Regions from separate parts of the Homo sapiens genome. Here regions 2, 3 and 4 are each reported to be linked to region 1. Evidence: microRNA targets listed by miRTarBase, many of them from high-throughput screens and not tested one by one. Region 1 holds a microRNA gene; each other region holds the end of a gene's coding sequence. Distances are from middle to middle.

The links. Region 1 holds the annotated microRNA hsa-miR-339-5p (UCCCUGUCCUCCAGGAGCUCACG, at 2,295-2,317, shown strand). A microRNA usually pairs through its seed, bases 2 to 8, with sites in the 3' UTR of a target mRNA and lowers its output. Matches are read on the target gene's strand: a 7mer-m8 pairs with bases 2 to 8, a 7mer-A1 pairs with bases 2 to 7 and ends in A, and an 8mer does both.
Region 2: miRTarBase lists LBX2 as a target of hsa-miR-339-5p. Seed matches in the 3' UTR shown: 7mer-m8 at 2,154-2,160.
Region 3: the mRNA of C1GALT1 is a reported target of hsa-miR-339-5p. Seed matches in the 3' UTR shown: 7mer-m8 at 2,650-2,656.
Region 4: miRTarBase lists FBXO31 as a target of hsa-miR-339-5p. Seed matches in the 3' UTR shown: 7mer-m8 at 4,245-4,251 and 7mer-m8 at 1,400-1,406.

Annotation. Positions count from the first base shown.
Region 1 is chr7:1,019,568-1,025,306 of GRCh38, reverse strand. It overlaps MIR339 (microRNA 339), which reads left to right and starts at 2,281; the gene lies at 2,281-2,374. All of the region lies in intron 2 of CHLSN (cholesin), which reads left to right. RefSeq lists an enhancer at 1,613-2,170.
Region 2 is chr2:74,494,170-74,499,908 of GRCh38, reverse strand. LBX2 (ladybird homeobox 2) reads left to right here and starts at 306. Exons shown (of 2, transcript NM_001282430.2): 1 at 306-576; 2 at 1,591-2,392. The coding sequence starts at 372. The coding sequence ends at 1,982. It overlaps TTC31 (tetratricopeptide repeat domain 31), which reads right to left. Exons shown (of 13, transcript NM_022492.6): 13 at 5,350-5,739. RefSeq lists an enhancer at 1,960-2,009.
Region 3 is chr7:7,242,715-7,248,453 of GRCh38, forward strand. It overlaps C1GALT1 (core 1 synthase, glycoprotein-N-acetylgalactosamine 3-beta-galactosyltransferase 1), which reads left to right. Exons shown (of 4, transcript NM_020156.5): 4 at 810-5,739. The coding sequence ends at 1,013. Among named protein-coding and RNA genes, the nearest start is that of LINC03016, 9.6 kb to the right of the region's middle.
Region 4 is chr16:87,326,248-87,331,986 of GRCh38, forward strand. FBXO31 (F-box protein 31) reads right to left here. Exons shown (of 9, transcript NM_024735.5): 9 at 740-5,263. The coding sequence ends at 5,041. Among named protein-coding and RNA genes, the nearest start is that of C16orf95-DT, 12 kb to the left of the region's middle. RefSeq lists an enhancer at 5,000-5,501.

The DNA of each region.
Region 1 (5,739 bases):
GGGAGTGGTTCTTATTTAGGTCCCTGAGGTACCAAGCACAGGCTTTGCTCTTAGCAGCCGCCACTCCAGTGATGAAGCCGTTAGCAGACTGGCCTCTGCAGAGCTCTGCGGGGAGGTGCCTGGCTTCTCCGGCCTCCACCCTGGCCCAGAGCTGCCTCCTGAGCAGCGGATCCCAACCTGCCTGCCCCTGGGGCTGGGTCTCCAGCAGTCAGGACTGAGTTGTTGCTAGCTGCTGACAGGTGTGGGGCGAAGGGGGCGCATTTGCCGCATGTCCCCATTGGCAGCATCTCCACGCCTTCCCTTGTGACACCTCCAACCAGAATAGAGCAGGTATGTGGGAGCCCGCACCTGCTCCCCCAGCGCCCCGGGGTCGTCTTCTGCCTGCTCCTTCTGTCCTCCACACTGAAGAGTGTGCTCCAGCTGGGGATGGGCATGTGTGACGCTGGGGAATGGATACCTGTGAAATGGTGGAGTGTGCATCAAGTCTAAATAGCCGCTCGCAGGATCTGGGGGCTTTTTGTTTTCAGAAACCTGATCTGATCTTTATAAAAAGTGCTCCCCCACTCAGTCAGCCTGGGTGTCCCTCCCGTCCAGGCCAGCAGCGCTGTCTGGCTCGGCAAGGAGGGGCTGAAACTGGAGAGCCCCTGGGAAGGCTCTTGTGGGCCAGGTGGCAGCGGGGAGGGTGGCTCTTGTTCCCCGCCCTCATCCTAGCGTTCAGCAGACTGCCCCACACCACAGGTTTCCATTTTCACCCTTGGGTTAAGAGAAAAGCAGAAATAAAAAGTTTCTAATGTTGCTTGCGAAATTCAGCACTGGCCACCAAAGGCACCTGGGGCTTCTGCGTCTCTCTTGTCCCCTGGGGCTCCTGCGTCTCTCCTGTCCCATGGGTCCGTTTCTTGCTGTTTATTGCAACCCGCCTACATCGTTGGTGTGTGCAGCTGAACTCAGGCTGTTTAGGAAGCCCACGGGCAGGGCTCTGTGGGGCCCATTCCTGGTCCCACGTCTCTGGCAAGGGCTCCTCTTGAGCTGAGGCTTCTGAGCTCCTGCAGGCGGGAGTAGGGAGGCAGGTCCCACTGTCAGCCAAGCTGCAGGGTTTTTAGGAAGAAAGTGGGGGCTGTGCACCGTGGGCTCACACCTATAATCCCAGCACTTTGAGGCTGGCCGGAAGGATCGCTGTGGCCCAGGAGTTTGAAAACTCATGCCTATAATCCCAGCACTTTGGGAGGCCGGCAAGGAGGATCACTTTAGCTCAGGAGTGTGAGAGCAGCCTTGGTCCTATCTCTATAAAAAATTTAAAAACTGGCCAGGCATGGTGGCACATGCCTATAGTCCTGGTTGCTTGGGAGGCTGAGGTGGGAGGATTGCTTGAGCCCAGGAGGTCGAGGCTGCAGTAAACTGTGATGGTGCCGCTGCAGTCCAGCCTGGGCCACAGAGCAAGACCGTGTATCAAAAGGAAAGGGCTGCTGTGGAAGGGCCTCCAGTCCCCTGGCCTGGGCTGCAGGGGCCGCTGCTCCAGCCCTGCCTTCTACATGTGCCGAGATGTGAGCAGTCACCCCTGGAGATCCTCACCCCTTCTCTGTAGAACGAGGAGTTGGGCTGCCAGGGATTGGGGTCTGGGCGCGTTGCTGGTGTGTGTGTGTGTGTGTGTGTGTGTGTGTGTGTGTGTGTGTGTGTGTGTGTGTTTCCTGGGAGGAGGCCCCCACAGTCTTCGTCATGTTCTCCAGGGCCCAGTGGGAAGGAGTTGGAAGTTGGATGGAGAGAAATGTGGAGTAGGGCAGGAACCTCCTTCCTAGGAAGGAGCCTGCGGGGGACCCTGCAAGGGGTCCCAGGTTCCCAGGAGGCCTCGGGTGTGCTGTCAGAGGGGCGCTGGGGCTGGGAGTCTGTCCATGTCTTCAGCCTGGGTCTCGTGAGTTCAGGGAGTTTGAACCTGGGTGGAGAATGAGCCCCTGTGCGTCTTCCCTAACCTCCAGCTGACACGAGCTTCCGCAGACCCCGCGGTGGCGGGTGTGGGCGCTCCCCGTGCCATCTGTTGGGGACACCTCACACATCACTTGCGCTCAGCCCGTGTCGCGGCTGCAGGAGCCACCAGACCTTGTAAATACTCGGATGCCCACATCTGCTCGTCTGTGTCTCCCTGTGGCTGTGCATCAGACCTCACGCGTTTAAAACGTCCTTCTGAGAAGGGGCCACAGGCAGGTGCCACCCATTGCCACGGCACCATGGCAGGAAGCGTCCCATGCTCTGCAGGGGTGGCAGGAAGCGTCCTGTGCTCCGCAGGGGCGGGGCGGCCGCTCTCCCTGTCCTCCAGGAGCTCACGTGTGCCTGCCTGTGAGCGCCTCGACGACAGAGCCGGCGCCTGCCCCAGTGTCTGCGCCGGGACCATGGAGTGGCCAGCTCGCCGCGGAGACGTCGCCGCGCTTTGTAGCAGCCCCTGGACTCGTATGCGTGGGTCTTCTGATGCAGTGTGTTTTATTCGGTATCAACATGGAAGGGGGAGAGCATGGGATGTTCCACTGGTGTCCTAGGGAGGAAGTAACTGGGGAGGGAGGACGGTTGGGGGGGATTCACCTTTAAAGAATTTGAGAGCTTGTTTATTTTGCAGAATAAGAGTAAATTAATCCCCTGTGTGTTTCTGATCATTAAGAAGACCACATCGATGCTGTTGGTTGTGGGACTGTCATTTCAGAGTCCGGATCCGAATGTGGTCCTGGCTACTCTGCGAGGGTTGCCGTGGGAGGAGGTGGTGGAGGGCACGTGGGCGTCCCGTGTTCCCTCACGACGGCCGTCACCTGCGATTGCGTTAAAATAAAAGGCTTAATTTAAAAAACTCTTGTTTCTCAGAAAAAGCAGTTTACTACTGTGAGTTAACGCCGTGGGATTCTAATAATTGAGGTGACAAATCTGATTAAGGTTTTCTTTAAATTGGAACAGAATCCGTACGGGTGCCCCATGAGAGGGCTGTGGGACGTGGGACCAGGCTCCTGACCTTGGAACCCCTGGGTGGGGTCTGAGGCGATGCAGGAGAAAGAGGAGCTCGTGGTCCAGGAGGCGCCCGTGGGTGGGGACATGCCTCCCCGCAGGCCTGCGTCTGTCCTCGTGGGACGGGGCCAGGCTTCTGGTCCTTCCCTCCTGAGCTGCCGTCACCACCGTGGCTCACGAACAGTGCAGCGGGGCTCCTGGTGGTCTGCGAGCAGACTCCGGTGGACTCAGGGTTGGTTGCCCTGTCCAGGGGGCCTCGAGTGCTCCAGGACATGGCCTGTCCGATGTGGCCCAGGCGCCACGCCTGTGGGCCGTCATCGCTGTCACCTGGGTGTGCCGAGGGACTTGGGCTTTCCTGCCACCCCCGCGGAGGATCGAACCTTGTGACCCAGGCCGAGGGAGCTGCCCTGGGTGCCCCTCAGGCTCCTGCTCCCCAGGACTCAGTTTATACCCCAAAACCCAGCCTCGCCCCGCGGAAGGGCGCGCATCCCAGTGTGTTTCCCTGTGCCAGGCACAGTTCTCGCTGGGCGGGTATTTTTGCCGCATGCTTTCTTTTAGTGCGCTGTTTGTGTATGGTTGTTGGTGAGCTGTGGTTTCTGTCTGGTGACAAGTAGGGAGGGGTTAGGGGGGTGGTGTCCTGCCTCCAGCCGACCTGCCGGGGTTCCCAGAGGGCACTGCGGTGGCAGCAAAGCCAGTCACACTGGGGCTGGCAGATTGTCCCTCTCCCATCCAACAGCATGGGGAAATGATTGATGACTGACAGCTGCTGAAGCCCTACTCCTGTGCGGTGGATGGACAGTGCTCCCTGGGGTCCCAGCTCCAACTACTGGCATCTTGTCAAAGCAGCAGCCCAGGTGGCCACCACTGCCGATCAGACTTAATGGATGAAGACAGGAAGGCTGGGCAGAGCCCTTCAGCTTCCGACTCTGGTTCAGTCACTGAAATCCGCAATATCATCTCTGTCAAGGTCAGGTCCTACTGCCACGATGAAAAGGCTTCTGGGGAAGAAGAAAGAAACCTGCCCCATGGGTGCCAGCCTGGAGGTCCACACTAGAGGTCCCTGCTGGGAGATCCTCAGCCTGGAGGTTCCCAACCTGGGGGTCCGTGCTGGGAGGTCCCCAGTCTGGAGGTCCCCAACCTGGAGGTTCTTAACCTGGTGATCCCCAACCAGAAGGTCCCTACTGGAATGTCTCCAGCCTGGAGGTTCCCAACCTGGAGTTCCCTGCTGCGAGGTCCCCAGCCTGGAGGTGCCTGCCTGAAGGTCCCCAGCCTGGAGGCCCTGCTGGGAGGTCCCCAACCTGGAGGTACCTGCCCGAAGGTCCCCAGCCTGGAGGTACCTGCCTGAAGGTCCCCAGCCTGGAGGCCCTGCTGGGAGGTCCCATCTGAAGGCTCCACCTGGTGGTGTCTTTCGTAACCCCAGTCCCCAGCTCTGCTGTATCAGGACGTTACAAACGGCCTGATTGCCCCCAAGAAAGTCGAGGGGTCCTGACCCCTGCACTCCTCCGTTTCACACAGCCTGGGGAGCCCAGAGGAGCAGGACATCCAAGGCCCAGGCCGTCTGCAGGGGTGGTCAGCAGACGGCAGTGATGGGCTGGTGTCTGCCCCTGAGATCAGAGGTGAACAGGAATGGGAGCCTCTGTTTCCTGCAGGTCCTCCCTGCTCGGGAGGTGGGTTCGGTAAGGGCTGGGTTTACTGTCATTCATTTCCTTACATCATCTTGGTCTTAGCTGTGTGAGACTAGCTGTCCCTGCAGTCTGGGAGGGGTTGGCCTGTTCCCCAACCCGCTACAGCCCCCTTGTGTGTGGTATCCGCCAGACATATCTCGATAGTGGGGGCTCCAGGTGGGGGCGCCGAGGGGCCCTTGGGTGGAGACGCAAGATGGGGCAGCGGCTGGCGAGAAGCGAACCTAGGGGGCTCCTCTCTGGGGCCCAGGAAGAGTTCTTGGAGAGGCTGTCCTGGCTCTGACAGGAGAGCGGGCCTCCCCTTTGGTGGGCGTGCTGGGCGGGGCCCCAGGCTGCAGGAGGACTGTGATGGGAGCAAGGGGTGCCCCCTCTCTCAGGGAGCCCCAGGAGGGCAGAGGCTGCAGCGCGTGTTCACAGGACGGGAGCATGAGGGAATGCACTCCGCGGCGTGGGAAGAAACAGTCGTGGGGACCAGGGCATCGCACGCGGGGCCTGCCGCATCCATGCACTGCTGGGCCTGGTGCCCGTGTTCCCGCAGAGCAGCAGACACCACCACTCCGCCGGCCCTTGGATCTCTCCTCAGTGGGAAGAGAGGCTGGGGACGGGCCGGCCACCTGCCGCCTCGCTGGACTTCTGCCCTGGGATTCCTGAGACGAGAGCCGAGCGTCCTAAGCTGCCCTCGTCCAGGTGCCCCGTGGCCTCCCTCGGGAAACGCACTGTAGCTTGGCCTCCGGGCCGCGGTCAGTGCCTGCGGGCCTCTGGGTCCAGGCTGTGGGAACTGTCCACTTCCTGGGAGGGCAGGAGTGAGAGACCTGAGTGGGTGACCCCAGGCAGCCCCAGCCCCCCACACTCCATCAGGAGAAGAGGGGTCAGGGCCACAGCCAACCAGTCTCCGCTTCCTGCTTGCTTCCCACCGCCTCTGCCCATCTGGAAGCCCTGGCTGCAGTGGGGGCCCTCCTCGTGGTGATGGGCCTGGAGGTTCTTGGCGGCCACTGGAGCTTCCTGCAGCCACTAGGCCTGCGCAGCCTCCCCTCTGCCCACAGGGCAGCCCCACGGCCACCTCCGCTCTGTGGTTTGC
Region 2 (5,739 bases), not on the chromosome of region 1:
AGCGGCGGCTAGGCGGGGAGTCGGCGGCATACAGCGTCTGGAGGTATGGCCCGGCCTGACTGTGCACGGTGCAGCGCCCCGCAGCGCGGAGCAGCCCCGTGGCCCTGCTCTGGTGGGTAGTTTGGTCGGCTTCTGCTCTCCGCGCCTGCCCCAGCCTGTAGAAATACCCTCCCCGGACATCTAGGAGCTCCAGATCCACCGCGGCCCGGGGTGGAGAGGTGGGGGCGCAGGAGGAGGGGCACACGGGACTCGGGCCCAGAGCCGGGGGCGGGTCCGAGGCTGGGGGCCCGGATTGGGAGCCGAGCACTGGGGCCCAGGCGTTTGCGGAGCCTAGCGCAACGGACAGCCGGACCGCCCCAGCCCGGCCGACCATGAACTCGGGACGCGAGCCCCGAACACCCCGGACACTCTTAAGCATCGCAGACATCCTAGCCCCGCGCATGGTCCCCCGAGCACCCTCTGCGCCGCAGCTTCCAGAGTCGGGTCCGGGTCCAACGTCGCCGCTGTGCGCGCTGGAGGAGCTGACTAGTAAAACTTTCCGCGGACTTGACGCGCGCGCTCTGCAGCCCTCTGAAGGTATAGAGCCGGCAAGGTCGCGGACTCTGACTTAGCCTTTTCCTCACCTCTCTCCTCCTGGTTCCCCGTCTCAAACCTTTGTCCCAGCCCAGGCCACCCACCCTAATCCTCCCCTGTCCTCAGCCCACGTGCCAGGACTCGCACCTGCGACTTCTCACCTCTCCTCCGTTAGTCCCTAGGTTCCGCGGCGGCTCCGGAAGGCCGCCAGTGCCAAGGGAAAAGGGCAGACCGTCGCCAACTGAGCGACCTGTTGCTCTGTTCCTTGTAGGCGGGGCAATCGCGATAGAGAAAGGCAGGAGAGAAAGAGACAAAAGGCTTCAGCCGCAGGCGGTAAACGAGTGAGCCTGCAAAGGCGGCACAGAAAGCGCTGGAGAGTCGAGTCTTTCCGGGTGACCAAGCTCCGCTCCAAGCCACTCTCTTCTCGAGGGGAGTCAAGGAGCAGAAAGCCCTTGGCGCAGCACTGGGCGCGGGATTCCGCACTCTGCCTTTTCTCGCTCTCTGTACCTCATTATCTCCCTTTGGGGCCGGAGGAGCGGGCTCTGGTGTCACTAAGGAACTGTAAACCGAATGCCCGACCCGATCCATGGAAGGGCATGATCTAAGTCCTGTTACCACCACCACGCTGGGTCGGCTGCCCTGACTCTTACTCGCCTCTGATGTCACCCTCAACTTATAGCCTGCTCAGCCTGAGGCTCCTAAAAGCCTCAAAGGCTCCACCCCAGAAGGTTTGACCCTGCACCTCTGAATCATCCCTCCCTTCCTTCACTTCCTTGCCCCTACAATATGCCCTCAGCCTGCTGCCTTTCGCACCCCTGTGGCCAGCCCGCTTTGCGCCCCATATCCCCACCTGGGCCTGACTCCCGATAAGGGATCACAGTTCTGGTCTCCGTCCGCCTTCCTGGCTCTCCCTCTACTTCCCCCACCGCCACCGGCCCGACCCCACCCCCAACTTTTCTTTCCAGGCCCAGCCTGATTCCCGGAGGCTGGAAACTGACCCCCTCCCTATCCCTACAGGGCGGGCAGGTCCGGACGCGCTGGGCCCTGGTCCCTTCGGCCGCAAACGGCGCAAGTCACGCACTGCGTTCACCGCGCAACAGGTGCTGGAGCTGGAGCGGCGCTTCGTCTTCCAGAAGTACCTGGCGCCGTCCGAGCGAGACGGGCTAGCTACGCGACTCGGCCTGGCCAACGCGCAGGTGGTCACTTGGTTCCAGAACCGGCGAGCCAAGCTCAAGCGCGATGTGGAGGAGATGCGCGCCGACGTCGCCTCGCTACGCGCGTTGTCCCCGGAAGTCCTGTGCAGCTTAGCACTGCCCGAAGGCGCTCCAGATCCCGGCCTCTGCCTCGGCCCTGCCGGCCCTGACTCCCGGCCCCACCTGTCAGACGAGGAGATACAGGTGGACGATTGAAGACAAAGCCGCCGCCAATCCTGGGCTCTGGGGCCCTGGACTCCTCACCTCGCGCTCTGCCTCTGGCCAGAGTTCCAGGGTGGAGGAAGGAGGTCCACTTGGGCCTCTTCCGGCCCACAGTCCAGACGCTCACCTTTCCCGGTTTTTTTGTAAGTTTGTTTTGTTGTCTGAGACAGGGCCTCGCTCTGTCGCCCAGGCTGGAGTGCCGTGGAGCGATCACCGCTCACTGCAGTCGCGACCTCCTGGGCTCAAGCGATCCTCCTGCCTCAACCTCCCGACTAGCTGGCATTACAGGCGTGCAGCACCACCCCAGGCTAATTTAAAAAACTTTTTTTTTTAGAGAGGAGGTCCCGCTATGTTGTCCAGGCTACTTTCCCAATATTTGAGAATAAAGTCGAGACTCTGCCGCACCATGCCTCTATCCAGACGCCCGCCAGAAGCAAGAAACAGTAAAATCTGTAAAGTGCTATGGGGAGTCCGCACTTGGCACTGTGCCAGGGCTTTCAATGCAATGTTTCCTTTAGCCCTTATAGCAACCCTTTAAGGTAGGTAATAATTACACCATTTTTACAAAGTCAGAACCCTGAGGTCAGGTTTTGGACCCAGCATCCAGCCAGCCTTCAGAGCTGATGCTTATCAGTCTACCAAGGGGAAGTCACCGGGCCTGAGTGAAAGACAGTGGGGCCTTGGCCCACCTACTGTCTGCCTGGGAGACCTTGATTCTAATCCCTAGGTTGGCCCCAGAGTGATGACATTGTTTCCCCACCTGTTAATGGGTTCCTGACCCTTTCCCCATCCTGCCAAAAGAACCCTCCGCTGGGACACAGGCAAATAGACGGGTGCCCAGAGAGGCCACACCCCTACCTGGAAGACCTCTGCCAGGCCCCTGGGCCAGAAATTTTACCACTAGGATGGTGGCAGCAGCCAGAGGGTGGAAAGGCTTGGCCTGCTGGGGCGAAGCTTGGAGTAGTGGCCTTGCCTGGTAGGGATTCCAGCCTAACTCAGCCAGTGGACATTTCTGACATTCATTTATTCCACTGGTGATAATCACCCTCCTGCAGTGTGAGGGGAGAGGAGGGGGAACGCTCAGTAGTTGCAGGCCTTCCCCTCCCCAGTGGTCCCAGCCAATCTTCAGATCAAGCTCAGTTGTCTTTCCTGCTTCCCTTCTCTCCTGTCAGTCCTCTGGCTCTCTTCAGACTTTCTCCTGCCTCTGCCTAAGTGTGACAACCCTACTTTCAAGGAAGTTCCATGGGTTCAACGGGGGTCAGCTAGGGCCTTAGTTGCAGGTGGAGGGCCCAAGAGAGAATATTCCTTGGAAAGTGAACAAGGCTGGAAGGCAGAAGGGAATCTGGCATTTTCAGACAGTACCACTTATTAAGCAGTTCCAAGTGCTTTGCAGGTATTAATCCTTAAAATAACCCAACAGGACAGAGACTTTTCTTTCCATTTTAAGGATGAGACTGAATTACAGAACCCTGAGGAAACTTGGCCAGGTCACAGTTTGTAAGTGGTGGCACAGGGACTGAGCTGTTTGCTTGTCCGACTCAGGAGCCCATGCTCTTGGTCTCTATAAAGGTGACTGAGCCTAAAGGAAAGAAGCAAAGGATTTACAGAGAAAGGGGAGGAGAAAGGGCCACAGGTAGGGACTTAGGCATTGTACTTTAGAGCATGGTCCCTGGAGGTTTTAGAGAAGAGAGACAAGAGACCATTGTTTAGGGTAGGCCAATCTGGCTGTGGGCGCAGGTTGGATCAGAGACTGGTAGAGACCTGAAAAAGGGAGTATATATCTGGCCACTGCAAAAGGTAACAGCAGAGAGAACTCAGGGCCAGACTTGAGGTGGGGCTGGGAGGTGGTCACAGAAGAGGAATCTGCGATTGCCCCAGGGATCAAGGATTGCATGAGTCAATGACAACCTAGCAAATGTGGGCAACTGGAAGAAAAATGGCAACATGGAAACAGACAGTGACCACTGGTGTGGAGCTAAGAATCTGTCAGCCATTATGCATATGCAAAAAAATAATTCTTTGCAACTGCATTGCCCCTTCAGTACTCCCTTCTAAATACTGCCTCTCTGGAACATTTCCAGTAGGGTGATCAACTCTTTCCCATCTGCCCAGCATTTTCCAAGTTTTGGCATTGAAAGTCCCTCACTCCAGAACATCCCTCAGTTCCAGGAAAACCAGGATGGTTGGTCACTCTACTTTCCAGTCCTGGGAACTCAGAACTCAGGCTGTTGGGTCAGACCCCTATTAATTAGGAGGGTGAAAATGGGGCAAAGTGTCAGGAGTCACGTGACTCTTGGAGAAGCTACAAGTCCAGGGCAGGCTAAGGTACTGGGGAGGGAACATTTACTTGAGAAGCTAGAACAAGGAGCCAGCTCAGCTGGAAGGCAAAAATACCATTGAGTAGTGGTGGGTGGCCTTTGAGAGGTCAGGAGCCCTACAGACATCCCAAAAGCATGCAGGTCCCTGCTCAAAAACAGGAAAGCCAGATGGGCAGGCCTCTTATGGAACCACTGTAATATAATCACCCCTTGGACAAACACAACCACCTATGCCCATCCTGCTCCCCAACCAGGGGTGAGCAAAGAACTCTCAGGGCAAATCCTTCTAGTTAGGAAGGTAGGGTCCAGTCAAATTAACTGGCTGAGTCATAACCTCTCTCCCCATTGAGGTTTCCCAAATTCTAGCCCAGCTAGCACTGCCACCTCTTATACTGAAGACTTGGACAACAAAACTCAAACCTGTCCCACCAAAATGGCCTCTGGATGGAGGTCTGCTCCGCTAAGCCCCGCCCTTGAACAGTGTGTATCAGGATCACTTGGTAGGTTTATTGAAACACAAATTGCTGGGCCCTGCTCCCATGGTTTCTGATGTAGGTCACTGCAGGGGGCCTGAGAAATTGCATTTCTTTTTTTTTTTTTTTTGAGAGTTTTGCTCGTTACCCAGGCTGGAATGCAATGGCGCAATCTCGGCTCACCGCAACCTCCGCCTCCCAGGTTCAAGCGATTCTCCTGCCTCAGCCTCCCGAGTAGCTGGGATTACAGGCATGTGACACCACACCTGGCTAATTTTGTATTTTTAGCAGAGGAGGCGTTTCTCCATGTTGGTCAGGCTGGTCTCAAACTCCTGACCTCAGGTGATCCACCCATCTTGGCCTCCCAAAGTGCTGAGATTACAGGCGTGAGCCACCGTGCCCAGCCTGAGAAATTGCATTTCTAGTAAGTTCCTGGATGATGCTGATGCTGCTAGCCTAGAAAGCACACTTTGAGAATCCAGTCCCAGAACTCTGGATTTTGTGAATTTCAGCACCAATTCACCCACACTCCTCTCTTCCTATTGTGGGAAGCATGACTATGTAGGACAGTTGCAGACAAAAAGTGGTTTATTTAGCACCCACTATGTACCAGGCACTTGGGAGGTATTTTCTCACACTTTCGCTTTCCATCCTCACAATATCCCTTATGAGGTAGGGACTACCCTCATTTTTACAGGTGAGGGAACTGAGGCTTAGATGTTGACAGACCCATCCAAGGTGACCCAGCTGGTAATGGTAGACTTCATCCTGCTACACAGTATTTAAGGGGCCTAAACCATAAACAATTTTTAAAAATTTGGGAAAGTCACACATAAAGGAGATGTTTCAATACCTTCTCTCTCCAGGTATGAACAGTATTGAGCAAGACCCACAGGGCAGCAATAATCATTTATCCTGATGAAAGGTTCCTCTGTGAAAGGTAAGGGGGTTGGGGGAGAC
Region 3 (5,739 bases), 6.2 Mb from region 1:
TGTTTTATTTTAAACTTTGTTCTCATACCAACCCTATTAGGAATTTATGAGAATTACATAACTGGACAAAGGTTTAAATCTGACCTACCTTAGGGCCACCTGATATGATTTTTCAGTCAATAATAGCTAACATTTATTGGGCATTTATTTTAAGCAAAGGGTAATTTACACACATTGTCTCCTTTAAATAACCACCTTTTACAAATGTGGAAATTAAAGCTTATAGAGATTAAATAACTTACTCAAGGTCGTATACTAGCCCACAAAATTTGGGTTCAAACCCAAGTCTAGGTTGAGAGCTTTGTCTCAAATACTGTACTGTTTGGGTTGATACATATATAGATGAAGTGTATTGGGTTGTAGACACCTAATGGGCAAGGCTTTGTAGTCATTGAATGCCCTAGAGGTATGTTTCCGAGTATGAGCCACACAAAAAATTACAGTGAGAAAATGAGGAAGAGAAAGCAGATGTTGGAGAAGGAGATTTCTCCTTGTATAGCTGCTCCTTTGATTTGAAGAAATCTCAGTAATTTTATCCGCTAAAGAGTGTGAGAGAATATTGTTTCATTTAAAAATACTTTCCACAGTTTCACTTGGTTTCACCAATTTCAATTGGTTTTAAATCATTAGGATGTCTAAGTAAACTATTGATTTCTTCCACAGGTCTAGTACATTAGGTTCCTCTGCTTTACCTTGCCATCTTTAATGTTTGTATTCTTTTAAAATTAGCTGGTCCTTTATAAGTATGTAAATATTGTAGCTAGCAATGTGCTGTTTATTAACAATACCTGTTTCCACTACTTTTTTAGGGTCCTGGTTGCTGCTCTGATCTTGCAGTTTCTTTTCACTATGTTGATTCTACAACCATGTATGAGTTAGAATACCTCGTTTATCATCTTCGTCCATATGGTTATTTATACAGATATCAACCTACCTTACCTGAACGTATACTAAAGGAAATTAGTCAAGCAAACAAAAATGAAGATACAAAAGTGAAGTTAGGAAATCCTTGAAAGAAAATCATGAATGAACAAAGGTAATATGTCTAGCACTGCACTGAAAAAGGACTTCTGCATTTCTGACATAGAACACTGGAATCCCAGTGAGGAATTCTAAGTGAACATTCCTTATAGAAACCTTTCACATGAATGACTATAAACTGAAGCTTTAAATGAGCTGTGAAGTGTGTTAAAATGTGTTTTGATACAGTAATATATAAATATGTCTATATATATGAGGAACTTGTGTTTTTTAAATGGTGGCCAGGTAGAGGAACTAGAAAAGAGATTTTGTTGCCTGTTTTCTGACCATCTGTGTTATTGTCACTGAGAAACTAAAATAGTAAATTTACTAAAACTACACTGCACCATGTTAGTAATAAACAGATCTGCCTTAAAGAAAAGAAAATTTTAGAAAGAAATATTGTTGCTCAGTGTTGTTAATATAGCTCAAGAATTGAGTTTATATTTGCAGTATGCTATAAATGATACCCCCCTACCACACCCACACACACAGTTTTTGTCTAATGAAAATGTTGCTGTGATTATTTATAATTGGTAGTATTTCTTCCAGAAGAAGCTAAAATAAGACTGGCACTTACCCTGAAGTGCATTAATAAAACCACACTTTAAAATTATCATGGGCCTTGACTATATTATATACTTGATTCTAATTAGTCATCTTTTACGCAATCTCTGTTGTCTCTTTTCTAAATGTGTTTAGCCACTCTTGAATACCATTCTCCACTATTAACATTAATTTACTCAAACCGTTCATAGCATTCTGTAAACATGTATTTTACATATTTGTTCCCAAATTTGCCCATTGTTCATTATGGGTAACTAATAATAAATTTAATGCTGTTTCAGGATGCTTTTCTTATAACAGTGCCACTCTCAGGAATTACTAAGTGACATTTTAAATTGATATTTTAAACTCTTTCCAACTACATAGTTATGGTTTATTTCATTCTCATCCTGTTGGGATGAGAACTTGTTTGTGCCTTTCATAACTTGTTTAAAGCAGAGTTTTAAAATTAGTTTATAGGATCTGAGGTGGCTATTAGTTACAGTGGCAAGATTATTTAGAAAGCAAGATTTTGATGAGAATTAAAAACAATAGAAAATGTAGAGTGCTTAAACAAAAATGTTATATTTTGAAAGAGTAGATACTTAATTTATAAATAACAGTCTGAAGGTTGGTGCTATTTTGGGATAATTGTTTTGCTAATGGATAATTCTAACAATGCAGAATACCTAGTCAAGACTGTCATCAAAAACATTCACAAATGTTTCATTCTATTTTTAGTGACTCTGTTTAAAGAGTTTCTGAAAGGAAAGAAATTTTTTATTTTTATTATCTTTAGCAGTACTGAGTGTCATAGCAGAATATTTTACAGACTTTCTATGAGATTATTTTTATGGTACAAAGTATTTACATTTCCCTCATGTTTATCATTATGCCAATTTTACATGGCAGTCATGCCACTGACTCTGCTATTTAGCTAAGTAATTTCTTTTTTCGGAGACTGTCTCACTCTGTCTCCCAGGCTGGACTGCAGTGGTGCGATTCTCCTGCCTCAGCCTCCCGAGTAGCGGGGATTACAGGCACGCGCTGCCACGCCCCGCCAGTTTTCATATTTTTAGTAGAGACAGGGTTTTGCCGTGTTGGCCAGGCTGGTCTTGAACTCCTGACCTCAGGTGATCCACCCACCTTGGCATCCCAAAGTGCTGGGATTACGAGCGTGAGTCACAGCACCCGGCTAAGTAATTTCTATTTATTGTGCCAAAACATGTCAAAATCATGACCTCTTTGAATGGTATATTTGAGAGGATGTTCATTTCATTGGTTAACCATGGACTACTCTGTCCACGTAGTGAAAACATGCACCAGTTTTTACCTATTATCATGGTAGTATCATCTGCCAAAATTTCAAGGCATTCATTTTATTCTTTGAACAACTCTTCACCATGGTGTGGACATGAATTTTCATATGTGTTACTTGACTAGAAGTATAAATGGTTTACTATAGATATCCAAAAACCTTGAGATTTGCTCATAGGAAATGAATATTGTGATGAATCCTGGGCTCTAGAGTCAGACTTGCTTGGGTTTAAATTCTTGCTCTAACACTTACTGTTTTTGTAACCTTGAGCAATTTTAATCTCTCTGTGTCTCAATTTCCTCATCTTTTAATTAGGGATGATAATACTACCTACCTCACAGGATTTTTATGAGGATTAAATAAATGTAAGGTTTTTAGAACATTGATAGGGAGCAATAAATAGAAGATTGTATTATTATTCTGTTACCTTGGAGTGTAAGTACTGCATTTAAGTGAATGAAAAATTTGCTTTGACCAGATACTGAAGGAAATAAGTAATAGCTAGTATTTATCCAATGCCAACTGTATGCTAGGTACTGTGCTTAGATAATCTGTGTATAATAGTGTTAATCCTCAAAATTTGGGTGTTATACCCCTATTATAGATAAGGAAACTGAGGCTCAGAGACAAAGTAACTTTGTCACTGTCACAAAGCTAGTAAGTAACAGAGGTAGGATTTATATTCAAAACCCTGTGTGTTCATTGGAACCGTATCAGGCTTGGGGCTATTCATGTAGCATTATTTCCATTTTTATGTATATGATATATGACGTCTGATGCATTGGCCAGTAATAGTCAAATTAACCCAGCCAAATTGTCACAGTGATTCTTAAACTGTGGTTCTCACACTTGCCCAGGATGTTGTTAAATGCAGATCTGAAGACCCCAATCTCAGAAATTCAAATTTAAGCATGGGGCCCAAGAGTATGCATTCTTACCAGATACCTTGGGCAGTGACTGTCAAAAGTCTGGTCCCAACAAACAGCATTAACGTCACCTGGGAACTTGTTGGAAATGCAGCCTCTCTCGGGGCCTCATCTCAGATCAGATCTACTAAATCAGATACTCTAGGGGCAGGGGCAGGGGCAGGGGCTAGCAGTTGTGTTTAAGCAAACTCTGCAGGTGTCTTTCTTATCCTAGTTTGAGAACCAATACCCAACAACCTACGTGATTTTGGTGCAAGTAGTGTTTGAAACACACTGAAGATTACTGCCCAATTACTAAGACATTTTTCAAAAAGCATGTTTTAAATCAGTGTAGTCCAGGATCACACTATATTAAATATAAAGATAACTTAAAGGATCATTGGATCATTCATTTTGGCCAAATTTTTAGCTTCTCCAAAGTGACTAACATCAGGGCCTACAATAAAATCTGTAATTCTCCAAGTTTAGTAATTTTATATTGAGGCAGGAAGGGCTCATTAAGTACTAATAAGTACATAATTTATTAAAAACATACATAAGTGTCATCAAAAAGGTCCACAATTGTTAGTAAAAAAAATTAAATTGAAGTAGTAAATGCTGTTTTATAACATACATTTTTCTGCTAATTCATTCTGTTTTGTGTGACCTAATAAAGCAAAAGAAAAATAAAAAAGCAATTCTCCAAGTACTTCATAGAGCACATAAAACCAGATTTCATGATGATGATGTATTCACTATCTTTTAGATTAAGATCTTTGTTATTTGGTAAATGATTTCAGTATGGTTTTAAAACATAAGGCTTTTGATGTCTTATGTTCTCTAATAATGGTATGCTTGTATTTTCTAGTGGGAAGTTCATAGATAAAGCAGATTTTTGTCCCAGTTTGCTTTCAAATATAAATTTCAGAGGGCTTTTTCTTACTGTAATGAGGTATGAAAATAAATCATTGATCAGCTCTTAATATTTTTTGAATACAGAATTGGATTTGAGCAGTAAATTTGCTAACTGGTTATTTTCACAATTTTCTTGAATATTAATTTTTCACTTCTTTGAGACTGTCAAACTATAGTTACTACCAGGTTGATGCACTGTACTTGAAAGAATCCCTTGATTAAATTACATCTAGCATTTTATTTGCCATTTCAATTTTCAGTTCATTAGACTATAATTCTTTGACAGTTTCTGCCTGGTGTTTATTGCCCTTCTTTGTTTGCTTTATTACTAACTTCCATTTTCTAGTTACTCTTAAATGCTGCCTTCACAAGGTTAATTTGGCTGTTAATAGTGATTAGAATTTTTATCACTTAATTGATAATTTTAAGCCTACTAACTAGGGTTCCCTATGAAATTGAAAGTAAAAGTCTAAGAATAATGCCTGCTGGCTCTCGAGATACTTGCCCTACTTAAAAATCTATAATTTAAAATTAATTCTATGTCTACAATTATTAAAGGAAGTAAAGTTATTTGGGTTCTTCCACTCACCCTTTTCTCAAAAACAACAACAAAAAACAAAACTCATTTTATTTTTCTACTTTATAGTAGGCCTGACAGAAACATAGTGAAGCAATCTGGGAGGCAACCTGTGGTAGATTTTATGCTAAATGTTAATGTAACCTCTGTTGATTTTTTAAAAATGTGTTTATATATAAGATTTGAAATAAAAACTTTAATACAGGCTAGAATAAGGAATTTTACAAATTCTCTTTAGAGCAACCAACATTAAAGTTTTAGAGTTGAATTTTGCTCTATTTCAACTCCCTTACCTCTCTAGTTTTCAGTTTATATTAAGTTTTAATAACTTTGCGGGGCCCTGCAAATTAATAATCTACATGAAGTATATTATTAGAGGGAAACTAATCTTACTGCTAAGCAGTGTGTTGTACTACATAGTGAATGTTCGTGTTTTGGAATTTAAAAATTATTTAAGG
Region 4 (5,739 bases), not on the chromosome of region 1:
TGCGTGGCCCATGCCTGGGCTCTCGCGTTGCCCGAGGGTGGACACCTCAGGATGCAGATGCCAGTCCCTGGGCCCGTGTCCTTAGTGCCATGAGCTAGTACCAGCTGTCCCCAAAACAGCTGCCCCACCTGCGTTCCTGTTCCCCTGCATCACTGCCAACACTTGGAAAATCACACTTGCCAATTTCTGCCAATCGAGGGTGTACTTTGAGTGCATTACCATGGAAAACATCCTGTTTCTACAATTCCAAGCTAACAGCATTAATTAGCAGCAGTGACTCACGGGGAGGCTGGGATGAGAACAGGGGGTACTTTCACTGTCTATGCTAAAGAACTGTTTACAAGAACATATGAGTTTAGTAAACACAAAAGAAAGATCAATGAGATCCTCAGTTCATCTGCCTGGCTCTCAGCACATTCCCTCCCATATCTGTCCTCGTTGCAGATAATGCAACTCACTTTGGCTTAAATCTAAGAAAATCTACTGGGGCCCGAACTCCTCTGGGTCCCTGGGTAGGGACTCGAGACACCTCTGATGCCAGGTCAAAGGGAAGGACACAGGGACAACCACTGTCTGGGCTCCAAGGCATCCCTTCAATGCTCCCTTCTGTCAACGCGGGAAATCTGACACTTCCTCAAGAAGCTGGGAAGTCTGGGTTCCCAGGCCGACAGCTCGCATGGCTTAAGGCTCTCGCCTCCGTCCAACTCATATTCCCAAAGAAATCACAAAACACACAACAAGCCTTCAAAAACGGATTTACTTGAAACTGTGAGGAGAAACAAGTGCACGGGTGCAGGTGGCGGCTGCCAGGATTGCTCCGGTCCTACCTAGTGGGTGCCTACCCAGGCAGGGCACAGCTCCTGCTGCAAGGTCACCTTACCAGGGGGTGCAGAGGTGCTCATGATCAGATGGCACAGCGCTTTCCTAATGCAGGCAGGCTACATGGCCCCCAGAAACAACCAAATGCAGAATCAGGCCAAAACCCACACAGCCCTGACCCCCTCGTGCTCTGGCTGGTCTCCCGGTCAGCAGCCCCTGAGGGCCGGCAGGCAGGCCACTGAGCTGTGGGTGACACAGGGTAGTCCACGGTTTGCACAGTCTCATTCCCATTCAAAGACAGGCCCCAAGGCTGGGGCGCAGGGGCTCACGCCTGTAATCCCAGCACTTTGGGAGGCCGAGGCGGGTGGATCACCTGAGATCGGGAGTTCGAGACCAACCTGAGCAACATGGCAAAACTCCATCTCTACAAAAACAAGTTAGCCAAGCATGGTGGTGGTGGGTGCCTGTGGTCCCAGCTACTTGGGAGGCTAAGGCGGGCAGACAGCTTGAGCCTAGTAGGTTGAGGCCTCAGGGAGCCATGATCGCCGCTCTGCACTCCAGCCCAGGTGACAGAGCAAGACCCTGTCTCAAAAAACAACAAAAAAAGTACCAGCCGCATGGAGACTATCTGCTGCTTGCATCTTCTCTAAATAATTACGGGGATGAGGAGTCCAGTGATGTTCCTGGTCTCTCCCCAGAAGTACAGACAGGTTGGGCCACGTTAACACTGGACTTGATCATGATTCCAGGAGTTTTATTCTCAGGACAGGTGATGGTTCTATGAGCACATTCCCGTAAGTGTTCTTAAAAGTTACACCACGAAGGCAGCAACCAGAATAGAAACATCCTAAAAGAGCCTAGCTGCTTTCTGCAGCACCTTGGACGGTGGACCACAGCTCAGCATCTCCTGTTCGCACCCAAGACCCCACGGCCATGAGGACAACACGAGCTCAGAAGATGCATGTGGGCAGGCGTTCTGAAGTAACAAAGGGGCTGAGGAGTTTCTGCTGCTGTCCGTGACTGCCCACGAGCACTGAAAATGGCCTAACCGTGTGCAGGTGAGAAAGCCTGGGGGTGAACACGCCCTGAGGAGTCAGGGAAGCCAGAGCCAGCGGCTGAAGGGCCCTTGCGTGCGGCTGCAGCACAACTGCAGGTTCTCAGAGAAAAATCTCCAGCTCAGACCCGGTTCTGCACAAAGCTCAGAATGGAGCGGCCAGCAGGGCATGTGGCTAGAGGAAGGACATGGCCACCCACCCCTCCCTCCTCGTGTGCCAGGTGGGCTTGCTAGGGGCACAGGTGCCCAGTGTCAGGGCAGGGATGCCACAGAGCCGCAGGCAGACTGAAGGGGCCCAGGGCATGGTCAGGAACGAAGAAGGAGGGAGCCTGAGGCTCTCCCACCACCAGGCCTGCAAAGCCACTCACACTCAGCAGTGGACACTTGAGGTCACGGCCCAGGTGGGCTGAGGGACCCCAATACCACCTGCCTTGAATCTCAGCCTGCAGAAGTCGTTTGCAACTTCCTCATGCAAATGAACATTCAGTGCCGGCACAGAAAAGCCTCCAATGACCTCTCTGAAATCTTCAATCACATCATTTCCAAACAAGTGACAAAGAACACGTTCAGGTGTGCAGAGCTGCACTGCAGGCAGCCCCACTCCAGAGAGCAGACTTGATCCTGCCCCAGAGTGAGACAGCGACAGAAAGGCATCCGTGGTGCAAAAGATGGAGAGTCCCAACCTCCCAACTCCACCTGCCACCTTCCCCAATCAAGCCTAATGCGCTTGGCTGTCCTGAACTGGGTTACTCAGCCTCCTCCTTGGAAACGGTTTTATCCAACTCTCAGCTGCCCTTAGGCCTCTGATGACGACATCAGCCCTTCCGAGTTCTCACCTGCAGGAAATGGGCCACCTGCAGGATCCCCTGAGAGGGTGGATGCCCTCCCCCGGAAGGGAAGCTGCTGTTTTGAGGCGCGCAGATTCAGTGCCTGTCCCTACAGAACCGGAGCCAAGAACTGGCTAAGGACACATCGGAGCGGAAAAAACAAGACCTGTAGTCACGACTGAAGGGACTGGCTGTGCGGCCAAAAAGGCCTCCCTTTCCTGGCTGTGTGGCTCTGGCCCTGCCTGGCATCACTGCAGGTCACCACCATGGAGAGACCCCCGCCCCCAACATACACACCAGAACCAGGAGCCACATGAACTGACCAACAGCCCATGGCTGAGACATGATGGGTGGAAGCTATTTCTATACCCAAACACTGGAAGCGTAATTGAGATCTGAGATTCCTTTAATCAGAAGCACGTGCGTCCCACAGTGTGCTCTTCAAGCCCCAAAGGGCACGCCTCTAGGACTGCGTCCCTTAGAGCGAGGCTCGGGCTCTTGGTAAAAAAGCATTTGCTTGATTTTATTTAAACAATGGTGAATCTTCAAGGTGCCAGTCTACATGCCCAACAGTCCTCCAGGCTTCAAGGCCACAGTCACCGTCACTCAGAGACTGCCTCATTTGGCAAGAGAGAAAAACAGTGACCACCACAGAGGGCAGGGAGTGACAAAGCTTGTAGGCTAATGCTGCAAAAGCCGCTAGAAACTGGGGCCACACACAAGAGCCAGCAGGTGCGCCTCGGGGTCTGCGTGGCTCCCGCTGCTGCCGCCCTGGAAGGGCGCTTTCTCCACTGGCTTTTCTCGTGAGTCTTTCTCCCAGGCCGGCCAGATTACCATTTAGGAACCTTTGCCAATTCTCTGACTCTGGGAAGCAAAGTAAGCATTTGCCAAATGCACTGAGGCTGGGCAATGGGAATTCTTATGTTCTTTAAAGGCCAGTCAAGGAGAAATTCATCAGGAAAACATTTCCCAGGACATCCTCAGGTTGGTCTCCACACCAAGGCACACAGACTGTCACCTTCCCGAGGTCCCTCACCAGCAGGACGTGTCCAGGGTGCCCAGCACAAGGACTTGGAGCAGCCCAGACACAAGGACAAGCGGCAGAGAGGGAAGGCTCGCTGGGGACGCCCACTCGGGCACGGAGCTGGCTGTGGGCTGGGGGAAGGGCCAGCTCTGGACACCGTGCTCTCTGTTCTTCAGGAGATGCCAACCTCAGCCAAGACCTCAGATGGGGTCCCCACACGCAGGTGTTAACACAACATGGGGCACACAGCAGTGGAGGCATCAGTCCATGGGGTCTCCAGGCTGGAGGGTCCCACTTTCCAAAGTGTGTCCCCAGATGCAGGTGTGGCTTTTCTAGAAAGCTGTCCCCTCACCTGCAAAGGGGTTTCCTCGTCATCTCATATGGGCACTCCTGGCACCTGTGTGGACCACTCACTGCTTCAGACACACGGGCCTGGAGCCTTGCGTTCTGGAGACAGTGGCCGGCAGCTTGGTTTTGACGCCGTGTGCGTGCAGGGAGGAAGGCATGGACAAAACAAACGCCCTGTCTGGAACAGGCCGTCGAGGACAGTCAAGTGGCTGGAACGATGGCCTTGGCTCCAAAGCTGGAGGGGCTGGGGCAGGTGCATGGGCTGGGCTGTGCATTCAGGTGACATTCCCTAGTGACTCAGGTCACTAAACCCACTCCACAGGTGGGGAAGCTGAGATCAGAGGTGAAATGCTTCTGTCCAAACTCCAAGCAAGCCGGTAGAGAAATGGGGATTCACTCCAGAGTCCCGGCCCCAAGCCTGAGATCCTACCAACTTCCCGAGCTTGCTCTGCGTACTGTGCCCATCACACCTGCGCTGCCTGAGCTGTTCGCCTCTTCCTGACCCCCTCCCAGAGGCCACTGTTGCCTGGCTTCCCCCAAAAGGAGTGGGGTGGAGCACATGCGTCTCACACACGACCCAGTCTATCACTCTATCCGCTCACAGGAAGAGCACCAGTCAGGAGGGTCCTGCTTCCCGAGAAAACCACCAGCCAGCCCAGGGTGCGGGAACCCCACCGCTTCAATTCTCACGCGGTCCCACGGCTGTCCCCTACATCTGCTGTATTCAGGCTCGTTCTCTCTGTTTTTGGTAAGACATGCTCAGCTTCTTCCATCATGGCACTGACAAATATGCAGGTCTATGTCACACTCTCTACATAAAGTGCTGGGGGGTGGCTGGACTGGGCCCCCCGACGAGGTGTGCGTTCTGGTCAAAAGGCCGGATTTCCAAAGTGCATGCTGCTTCTATTCACAGGTCAGAGTTCAGAGCCCCAGAGCCACCCGGGATGTGGCGGCAAGGATGTGGCCGGTCAGGAGGTGAGGGACTGAATGTTCTTGAGCATCTCATCGAAGGCCTGTGGGGACGGCGCATCTGCGTTCCGGAAGGTGGCCTGGACCCGGCTGTACAGGCTGAAGGATTTCAGCTCCAGCCAGACGAACCCGAAGCGGTCCTCATCGAAGAGGATGAAGACCCCGGGGGTGCGTTCAGGGCTGGTGAAGCCGTGGCCCGCGATGAGGCCTGTGCCATAAAAACTGAGCAGAAACAAGAGGGAAACTGTGAGCTGGGGGAGGGCTGAGTCAAATGCACGCCACGTACAGCATTCTGCGACCCCGCTCTGTGCCGCAAGAGCCACATCCACTGTTCATCAGCCAGAAGCTGACTCCCAGAGCCAGCCTGTCTCTGCAGGGGCAGCTGGGGGTGTGGGCTGAGCCTGTCTCTGAAGGGGTAGCTAAGGGCGCAGGCCGAGCCCACCTGATGATGGACGCAGAGGCCAGAGCTCGGGGCTGCTCGGGGGATGGGCGCTGACTCGCAGCACCCGTGAGGGATTCACCCACTGACTGCACAATGCTGAAACACTGAACTAAAACGAGGTCTCTGCAGGCCCAGAGAGCTCTGTTCCAAAACACACATTTCATAAAGGAGGCCCAATGTGAAAAAAAATCTTAATGTCTGGGAGTTATGTCCCCATACAATTAGCTCTAATACAGGCAGCCTGCAGCTGACATTA